Linked DNA regions of Homo sapiens: region 1 is linked to region 2. The links come from fine-mapping of genetic effects on gene expression. A gene starts in region 2. The other region holds a variant in brackets. All regions are shown on one strand. Distances are from middle to middle. Region 1 overlaps SYTL3 (synaptotagmin like 3). Region 2 holds the start of TMEM181 (transmembrane protein 181).

Evidence for each region. PIP is the estimated chance that this variant, and not a neighbour inherited with it, causes the effect. A credible set is the group of variants that fine-mapping cannot tell apart.
Region 1: its variant is the best candidate, but not a certain one, in a credible set for the expression of TMEM181 in nucleus accumbens (GTEx, PIP 0.68).

Annotation. Positions count from the first base shown.
Region 1 is chr6:158,664,244-158,669,468 of GRCh38, reverse strand. It overlaps SYTL3 (synaptotagmin like 3), which reads right to left. Exons shown (of 18, transcript NM_001242394.2): 5 at 3,856-4,074. Among named protein-coding and RNA genes, the nearest start is that of SYTL3, 17 kb to the right of the region's middle. The variant G/C (reference allele first, on the strand shown) is at 3,168.
Region 2 is chr6:158,557,531-158,562,755 of GRCh38, reverse strand. It overlaps TMEM181 (transmembrane protein 181), which reads right to left and starts at 2,665. Exons shown (of 17, transcript NM_001376852.1): 1 at 2,524-2,665. The coding sequence starts at 2,531. RefSeq lists enhancers at 634-1,133, 1,134-1,635 and a silencer at 2,055-2,974.

The DNA.
Region 1 (5,225 bases), 110 kb before region 2:
AATTTGGTTCTAAAGCACCTGACTGGCAGCAAAATGTTCCTAACGAAACAGGCAGTGTGTCCACAGATACCTGAAGCTGAAGAATCATTGATTTGTTGTCACAGCAATTACAAAGCATGACAAGAAGATCACAGTTTGAAGGAAACAAGTCTGAACAAGAGTAATTCCTCAGCAATCTTAAGGGAGAAGACCAGGTTTCTTTTAGATGTGGAATTAGTTATGACACAGTATATTCGTTTTAATAGAAAAAATTAATGCAAACATAAATCATCAAGGTTAATCTTATTTTTTTGATGAAGCTAAAACAAACATACAAAGCATAGTCTCCTCCTTGATATTTCAACATAATTGTTACCATCTGCCATTTCACTGCAGAAAGTGTCAATACATTCCCCGGGAAGAAACATCAGTGGAAAACAAGGATGTTTCTGCTTTTAACTTCTTTGTTTCTCCTCCCAAGTCACCCTCTTCTGATCGGCCCCTGCTGAGGACAACAGGAGCCCCTTCACTACTGAAAACAACTTTCCTTGGTTCTTCTAAGTCCTTTCCAGTGTGCCTTTGATTACTGGGCTCTTTCTGTTCCTTCGGTTCTCGGATGCCCCGTGATCCAGTTCAGCATGCCAAGCGACCTGTCTGGCCAGTCCTCAGAATCACTTTTCACCTTTCTCTTTTATCCCCTGTAACCAAGGTCCATCCTCCCCTTTTCCTGTCTCTCCCATTCTCCATCACTATTGCCACCAGCCTCCTCCCTCGGTGCCTCTCATTCACTGCAGCAACTCTCAGATTGCTCTTTTACCTTTACCTTCCGCTCTCCTGATCTTGCCCTGCAAAACCAGGCAGACTTTCGGCATGGTGTTCGCTTGGCAAAGAGCACATGCTCAGGCTCCAGCTCCTACTGTCTTGGAGGCAAGCTCTTCTAAGTGGCTTTTAAGACTCTGCCGGCCGGGCGCAGTGGCTCATGCTTGTAATCCCAGCCCTTTGGGAAGCCCAGGCAGGTGGATCACCTGAGGTCAGGAATTCGAGGCCAGCCTGGCCAACATGGTGAAACCCCGTCTCTGCTAAAAATATAAAAATTAGCCAGGCGTGGCAGCAGGTGCCTGCAATCCCAGCTACTTGGGAGGCTGAGGCAGGAGAATCGCTTGAACCTGGAGGCAGAGGTTGCAGTGAGCCGAGATCACACCACTGCACTCCAGCCTGGGTGACAAGAGTGAAACTCTGTCTCAAAATAAATAAATAAATAAAAGACTCTGCCCTCCCAGGACAAGGCTCCTAGCAGGCGGGAGAGGACTGGAGATTCAGAAGGAGGCCTGGGGGCCGGGGGGACCTGGGTTGCCATCTTCACTCTGTTCTTACTGATATGACATGGACAAACCATCTTGTGTCTCTAATCCTCCACTTTCTCAACTGTAAAATGAGGATGAAAGTAGTAGCTACCCCACACGATTGTTTTATGCTTTTAATAAAACATTAAAAGACTATTCCAACCATGGATGTTCTGGAAGTCGTCTTGAGCCACTCAGCCTGCCTCATCTCTCCCTCTCTGAGCTCCCAGGGCCCTTAGCAACTTGGCACTCAGTTCTCTAAGAGAAAACCTTCCCTGAAGACAGAAACTTTATCTTAAATGTCTTCTGGAACCTCTCAACACAAGATCAGGGCCAACACCTGCCACAGGCCTCTTGTTCTGCAGCAACCTGCGAGTTGGTTGGTTGGTTTTGGTCATTGCTACCCTAGCACTTCCCCTTTCTTGATTTTAAAAACCAATTTTCCTCATCTTGTTCCTGTCACAGATCCACTTTTTCTTGAGAAATGAGCCTGAAGCGAAGGAAGAAGCAGGGGAGACAATGATCGGGGTCAAAAACCTTTTCTAGGTCCCCAGATGTGCGACAGTTATGAATGTCAAAGATTCTAAAGTTTTACAAAGTCTCATCTTTCTTTTGGTCCTAAAGAGGAGGAGGACAGCCCAGACTGGATAAAGCTGGAGAGAGGACAGAGGGCTGCGGGGACAGGGAGCAAGGCGAGGGGAAAGAAAATGCACATCACCACAAACTACTTGGCTCTCTCCCCTCCCGACTTCTCCTGTTAATGCACTCATAGTAATGCAATGACCTTAAGTATTTTGAAAACCAACCTCATTTCAAAATAAGGAAGCTGGGGTTTTAGAAGTCGTATTTCATGTACTTAGAGGGTAAAGTTACAGTGCCTGGGACACAAGACTCACTAGGGCAGAGATTTCAACACTGTCAGCTTCCTGGGAGATTGCCTCAGACCTTGTCCTCTTGTTTTGATTTTTCGTTTACAGTTCATTGGTAGAAGAAGAAAAAATGCTGAGAAATGTAACACCCTGCCCAGCAATGTTTATTATTAGACTTCAAATATATATGGTTGGTTGAAATGGGGAAGAAGATACTGAGACCTTTCTAGAGATGATTTGGAATTGCTCTCTATGCCGCCAGGGCAGCTCACAGTAATTATTTTTTGCTCTCAAGCAAGGAAAAGCCTGAAGGACAATGGCTTCAGCAAACCAAAGAAACATGAGATGAGAAGGCGAATTCGGCCACCGTCCGTGCGACTTGGCACGCTGTGAGCGAAATGGACGGAATGCAGTTCAAGAGCAAAGAAATCAGGTTGAACCACTTCACCTCTCTGGCTAGATGACTGAAATACAGTAAGCCTTGCAAAGGGACAGGACACTTAAGTAAATGAATGCCAGGGCGTGCGTTAAACACAGCCCTCCGGATTTAGGGGGAAGAAACCCCAGCCACAATGCCCACACTGTGTAAGTGCCTCCCACAGTCTTTGTCCCTGGGGCACTCACACATCTGTGGCAATATTTAGAAGTTGTTTTCAAATCTCAGGGTCTCTGATGACTCCCATTCACACCAGCCTAGTATTCCTTCCCTTCTCCGAAGTTCTGTGATGTCCTTGTGCACCGTCTCCCCCAGCAGACGGAGTCACCCCTCTAGTGTTTTCACGGAGCTCATGGCCAGTTCATTCTTGCTTTGAACAGCAGGAGTCTAAGCCAAGTTGGCTCTTTATCGTTTTCAGAATGGGGAACGCAAAAACACCAATTCCATGTTAAAACTGGTATTAAAACCCCCTAAACACCAATTGATAACTATAAACGTAGATTCAGTCTGTCACTAAAGGGAAGCATGTCCATTTCTTTA[G/C]CTGAGTATTAAAGACAGGTCAGCTTCAAAAACGCAGTATTTAAAGCCTCAGATGATTACTCCAATATTCCCTAGATTATAATTTACTCCACTGGTACTGAAGGAGATAAATTAAGTGCTAAGAAAATGACAGCACTTAGTTAAGAGACCCAAATGAATCTGAACTCCTGGGTTAGCCCATCCTTCGACTTAACAAACTTTTGTTGTTTAAACAGGTTCTCACTCTGTTGCCCAGGCTGGAGTGCAGTGGTACAATCACAGCTCCCAGGTTCAAATGATCCTCTCATCTCAGCCTCCTGAGTAGCTGGGACTACAGGCATGCACCACCACACTTGGCTAATTTTTGTATTTTTTTGTAGAGATGGGGTCTCACTACGTTGCCCAGGCTGGACTCAAACTCCTGGGCTCCAGCAATCCACCCACCTTGGCCTCCCAAAATGCTAGGATTACGGTCATGAGCCACCACACTTGGCCCAAACTTCTGTAAATGAAAAAAATGTTGCTACATAAAATTTATTTTTGGATGAAGATAACTTCCAAGGCTAGAAAGGTAGCTCCCTATCAGGCACTCGGTACACATTTACTGGCTGAAGGTGAGGAGTGAGTGCTCTCTTTATGAGCGGTTTGTAAAGAGGCCTCCTCCGAGACCTGAATCAGTGGGAGGGATCCAACCACCGGCCATGCTTACCTGTCCTCGAAGCACACCGTGCACTTCCAGGCATGGGTCCCCCTCAGGAACACTCGGCACTGGGCACACACGCGGTGGCTGCAGCCCCGGCACACGGCGCCCCGGTGCAGCAGGAACCCCAGCACCTGCTGGCAGCGCGCACAGCACTTCTCTTTGTGCTCCCAGTCCGTGTTCTTCGCTCCTTTCCACCGGAGATGCTGCAGGTGTGTTTTCAGTTTCCTGCAGCCCTCAGAGTTAAAGAAGATAGTATTAGATGGAACACCTGACCCCAGGCTATAGGGCAAGAGCCCAGGCAGTAACCCCCATGGCAAGGGAAGGGGCTTTGGCATTCGACATCCCTGGACTCCAACATGGCTGTGTGAACTGGGCTCTCACTCAACATCTCAGAGTCGAGTCTCAAGGGTTTTTTCAACCGTGAAACAGGTGATATGACCTTACCTCCCAGGGTTGCTGTGAGGACTAAATGGCAAAGTATAAATAACATGCCTGGGGCAGAGAAGCTCCCTGCTAGGTCCATCCCTTCCTGCCCAAAGGCTGTTATGATAGTAAGCAAGAATAGTGAAAGGAGAGGAAAAGACACTGAAAGGAGCATCCATTCTAATCTGCAAGGCATGGAATAATCTAGAAACACACAGCATACATCCTGCTATGGGTATAAGTTGCCCAATAAAATCAACTGATGCTATGCTTTTGCTACATTTTTTTTTTAATAAGTGGTCAGCCCACTCCCCTAGACAAATAGCCATAGTGCAAAGAGATACTGTATTGGACCAAAAAGGTGTCATTTACTAGCACGCTCTTTTATGAATGTCTGTGATACCTACTTGTAGAAAAGATGAGCCAATCCCAAGAAACAAGATGACATCAGAAATGCACTTTAAAATTCAACTTTCAGGATCTACCCTAGAATTAGTACCCTTTGAAATACAACTTTGTTATCACTATGTCTATGTCACTTTGTTAATATTCAAAAGGATGTCTCAAATCACTGAAAGATCTTTCATCATCAAATAAAATTTCACTTTTCTCACTGTATTATAGTTTTTGTTTTCGTTTTTTTGTTGTTGGTTTGAGACAGAGGCTTGCTCTATTGCCCAGGCTGGAGTGCAGTGGCGCGATCTCAGCTCACTGCAAACTCCACCTCCCAGGTTCAAGGGATTCTCCTGTCTCAACCTCCTGAGTAGCTGGGATTACAGGCACCTGCCACCGCCCGGCTAATTTTTGTATTTTTAGTAGAGACAGGGTTTCACTATGTTGGCCAGGCTGGTCTCAAACTCCTGACCTCAGGTGATCCGCCCGCCTCAACCTCCCAAAGTGCTGGGATGACAGGCGTGAGCCACCACGCCCAGACTGTATTATAGTTTTTAATG
Region 2 (5,225 bases):
GAACAAAAAACCATTCCATGAGACAAAGTCCTAAATAATTAAATGATTGCAGGAATAGGATACTGACCCAAGCCTGGTGTGCCCTCAAAAGCACTGGGAGACTCAGGAGGCCCAGGACCCTGAAACCACAGCAGGGCTCCAGGATACTTAATTTGTCTGTGCCATGCTTTGCTGCTAGCCGAAGGTGGTTCTAATTAATACACTTCTACATTGAAATGCCCCCAGGATGAAAAAGACACATAAAATACACACTAAAAAATGGCTTCACGTGCCAAGCAAGACACACACACACACACACACACACACACAAAAACAGCCTTATTTAAATTTGCAGAGAAATGCTAAAGTAAGACCAAAGCAACATGTGAGCATGAGAGTCTCAACTCCGTGCAGCCCTGTAGCTCAAACAAGTCAGGTTAGCAAATGAGACGCCCCACACCGTCCTCAGACTCCTAGCACCTCTCCCGTCCCTAGCATCATCAGAGAAGGAATGGAGACTGCAGGAGAGTTCAAGGTAAAACTGTTAAGAACTGCTAACCTTTTTTGCTGATGAGTTTTGATGGCAATCTCTCCTACATTTTTAAAGAGCAGGCTGGGCCGAATGAGAGTCAGAGGTCATAAGGCCAGGGTCTGCAGGGGGACGGTCCCCTACACACCGTAAGCAGAGTGGTGGAGCTGCCCCTGCTCCTCCAAGCGGCTCTGTTCTCTCCCATTCTTTCCCTGGACTTCTCTTCTTTCTCACCTTTCTCACCTCTGGGCTCTCAGGCACACCAGACAAGGACAGAGAACACTCAGTCACCTAAGTCCAGGACGCACTTCGGATTTTCAGGCTTGTTTTTTAGGAGGATTTTATCTGCTACCAAACTCTTCTCAGTTTCCAGGTAGGTGCCTGGAATGCTGGCCGATGGTGGTGGGCTGATTTCCAGATACCCTCATCCCCCTCCGTCTTCCCTAACCCTCTTAGTGCTCCACAGAGCCTGAGGCACAAAGCGCTTACAGCTGCAGGGGGAGGCCTCAAACTCGCACAAAATTCAAGCTGCGTTTTGCTTGTCCTCCTCGGGACCTTTCCTTGGTCAACTGCTTTCTTTGGTCTAGTTCCCTGTCCTGTAACAGCGCAGGACCCTGGCAGAAGACCCAGATCCCTGTCCTGGCCAAGGCCCTCACCACCTCACGTCCCCGGCCTCTCTCCTACTGAAAAAGCACACCCAGCCCACCTATGCAGCTCCAAGGGGCAGCGCGTGAGAGAACTCCTGTAACACGCAGCTGTCACTCTGCTACAAGGCCACAGTTCCACAAGACACCGTTCCAAGCAGTATTATTTACATAGGCCGCACAAGAATCTTGCCCTCTGGAGTTGTGCAGAGGCAATACTGCTAACCTACCTCCACTTGGCTTTTAAAATCTTTAAAACATCCACATAGGTCTGATATTTGATGCCATTCCAGTTTCCCAAGAGGTGCTAAAGCAACATACCAAAGTCAGAAACTTCTAAGGAAGCAGAAGGAAAAACAGATCTCTCTGTCACAGGCACTTGCGCTGAGGCAACAGGCCTGGGTGTCACTTCTCTGACCACGTCCACAGCCAGAGAAATCAGCAAAGATCCAAAGCAAAACCCTTCTGCCTCAAAAACCGCATATAAGCCAAGAAGCGCGCCCAGGCCCCTCGGAGGCTGCCTTCAGTGCAGGGAGCCGGCCCTGGAAGCCTCCTGCGCCAGGCGCGGCTGCACATATGGGCCACTCCTTCTCCCGGACTTTCTGCAACTCCACGCGGCGCTAACCCTCTGGTTAACTCCGTCTCCTTCTTTTCCAGATGCGCCCAGGGGGACACCTAGGCGACTGCTGGGTCAAAAGCAAGCTTTAGGGATGGCGTCCACGAGACCCCAAACAGGTTTTTCCTCATTAAAAACCCTGGACTTCAAAGAGGTAAAGAAAAAAAAAAAAGCCCAAAGTCAGCAGATCGTAAAACGCATAAAACTCATATAACTCGACACCCCGAGTCCAAAGGGGCTGTTGCGGCAGGCTCCCCGGTGCCCACGTCACCAATCGCCTCTGAGAGCCTCGCACCCGGCGCTGGGCGAGACCGCAGGGCAGCGCGGGGCGCTCTCGATACCGAGGGGACGACGGGGCGGGGCCTTTCCGGCAGGAGAGGCTGCCCGGGAGGCGGCGGGACTCCGTGCGGGCGGCCACCCTACGCCGGGGAAGGGCCGCAGCGCCCCCGGTTCTCTCGGCCCCCCGGTGAGCGCTGTGGCTCGCAGCCCCGTCCCGGAACCCCGACCGCATCCCGGTCTCTAACCGCGGCCGGGCGGGCAGGCAGGAGGGAGCCCCGGCCCCGGTCTACTCTCGCCCCGCGCAAACACCTCCGCCTGACCCGCCCGCGAAGCCCCCTTCAGCGCCCTTTTCCCTGCCCCCAGTTCCACGTGGGCGCCAGGGACCCTGCGGCACGGCGCCGGGAGCCAGGGATCCCCAACTTTCGGCCGGAGTGTCCGGAGAGCCAGCCAGCCCGCCCGCTCGGCCGGGGACTCACGGCTCCATCTCGGCGCCCAGAGCCCTCGGCCCCGGCCCGCGCGTCCCGAGCCCGCCAGGCGCCGCGCAGCAGCCTCGGCAGCGGCAGCCGCAGCCGGAGCCGGAGCGACAGCGGCTGAGCAGCGGCCGGCCGCGGAAAACTCATCAGAGCGCGACGCCGAGATCACGTGCGCGGAAGCGACTCTCACGGCGGAAGAGGGCGCGGCGCGGTGGAAGCGGGGCCGCGGGCGCGCGGCGAGGGGGGTGGCCCTCCTTCGTGGCCCCGTGCCGGGGCGGAGCCCCACGGCCGGGAGCACCCAGGCTAGCCCTGAGCTGGGGCTCAAGACAGAAGGAATGAGTGAATGAATGACTTAGTTTACCTCTTGTCCCTAGGGCAGGTAAACAGCGCATTCATTCACTCCTACTTCCCGAGTGTCGGGGCGTAAGGATGGGCCTCGGGAGTCCACGAATGCCCTGCAGTTGTCTGGAAAACACTATGGGTGTCTGCATTTTTCTAGGGAGAGGAGCTATAGCTGTATATTCATTCCCTAAGGGTCTTGTGACCCCAAAAAAGGTTAAAAGCCAGGACAAACTTCTGCCACCCCGAATGATGACAGGAACCTTCCGGGCTCTTTCTGGTAGCTTCTCCCGCAAGCCGCTTCTAGACTGCAGCTAGACCAGTGGACCAAAAGCACTTTCCTGATTTCGCATCTTGGCTCAGTGTTCCCCATTTCTGTAATCAAGAATGGATGAGAACCAAGGTTTGGCTATTTCTGAGATTCTCTTTGGAGCATTACTCAAAATGTCCCGTGTTCCCGTGTGCTGTGGGTTTAAAGTCGGTCTGCATGAGTTAAATAAAGGACTTCCAAGCTTCCTTTGCAATGTATCCTCATTCATTCACTAAACTGTAAACAGGCTTACTATTGGCAGAAAAGTGTGGACATGAATAAGGAACAGTTCCTGCCCTCAGTGAAATTACAGGCAAAGAAAATTACCAACAGTAAGTTAGGTAGCCTTAGCTCAGGGTGCTACAGTGAGGAAGGGTGCCTAACTCGCCTTGGGGGAGTGGAGAAGGTAGGGGACAGAATGCAGAGTTTGGGCTGAATCTGGAGGGTGAGGTGGATATTAGGAAGAGGGGGGTTAAAAGGGGGAGATACCAAGCAAAGCACACCCTAAGCCAGGACACCAAGGAATAGTTACACAAAATCTCATTAGTGCTCTGAATCCTAAACCGCAACTCTTCAAGGAATAACAAAAGATTATTTCTTAAGTTCTTTTCATACATAAGCAGAGGGAAAGGGTTCTTCATAGCAACAAGACCGGAGAACAGAAACTGGGTACCTGCAGGGACAGACTGTTCACAGGGACGTGGGGCGCGGGAAGGGGTGAGTCGGAGGGAGTTCTATGAGCTAGAGCAGGGGTCCCCAACCCCGGAGCCTGTTAAATTACAGACGTGAGCCACCGCAACCAGCCCAAACATGCGTTTTCATGCAACACCTTCTGTTAAATGTTTAGGCCTGAGGATGCCTCCCTACTTGAGTCCTTACATAAGGAGCTGCAGCCTGGCATAGTTAACATAAAAGAGAAGACACCCTAATTGAGGAGGATGCTTTTGTAACAAACAGCTGAGTCTCAGCCAATCACAGCCAGTGAGCTTCTGTCATTGGCAGGTGGTTAGCTGATTCAAATAAGCTAGAACATAAACCTGTAACCAGTTAAGCTGTCTCTGCGCCTCAGTTCCACTTTCTGTCCATAAATGTTGTCTAACCACGTTGCAGCCCCAAAGTCCTTTGAACCTGTTGGTTCTGAGGGCTGCCCGATTCTAGAATCATGAAGAAAAGCTACTTAGGATCTTTAAATTTGCTGTCATTTTGTCTTTCGACACTTCTGATTCTAAAATGTTGGAAACTAATTCGAAAAAATATCTTAAACCCTGGGAGGGACTAAACAAAGCACATTTGCTGGCCACATTTGCCTAGAGGCAGCCAGTATCTACCTCCAGCCCAGAGCAGCATGAGATGATGTGGAAATCCCTGCTCTGTGCCAGCTGCCTGGTCTCTCCTGAGGCATCTCCAGCGAGAGGAAACTGTCACCACCCCGAGGACCCCTGGCCCTCACTGTGTGCATTTGACTCCAAACTACCTCCTGGCAATTCCTTCCTGTCAGATCTCCCTGGATTTGCTGTCCAGCGTCACCCAGGTCAGCATGAGCCCTCTCCCAACACTCCTTCAAGGATGTGAACAACCACATGGCCCTCAGCTCCTCTTCTCCCGTCATACTCGTTTTCTCATTTATTTGTTCTTCAAACATTAATGGAGCAGTGTGTGTGTGCCAGGAACAACTCTCAGCTCTGGAAACACAACACGAATAGACAGATGAGGTCCCTGTCCTTTTCTAGTCAAGAACAAACAATAACCTAAATAATTACTTAATTGACCGGGCATGGGCATGGTGGCTCACGCCTATAATCCCAGCACTTTGGGAAGGTGAGGCGGGGATCACCTGAGCTCAGGAGTTCAAGACCATCTTGGCCAATATGGCGAAATCCATCTCTACTAAAAATACAAAAATTAGCTGGGCGTGATGGCGGGTGCCTGTAATCCCAGGTACTTGGGAGGCTGAAGCAGGAGAATTGCTTAAACCCAGGGGGTGGAGCTTGCAGTGAGCCAAGATCACGCCACTGCACTCCAGCCTGAGCAACAGAGCAAGACTCTGTCTCAAATA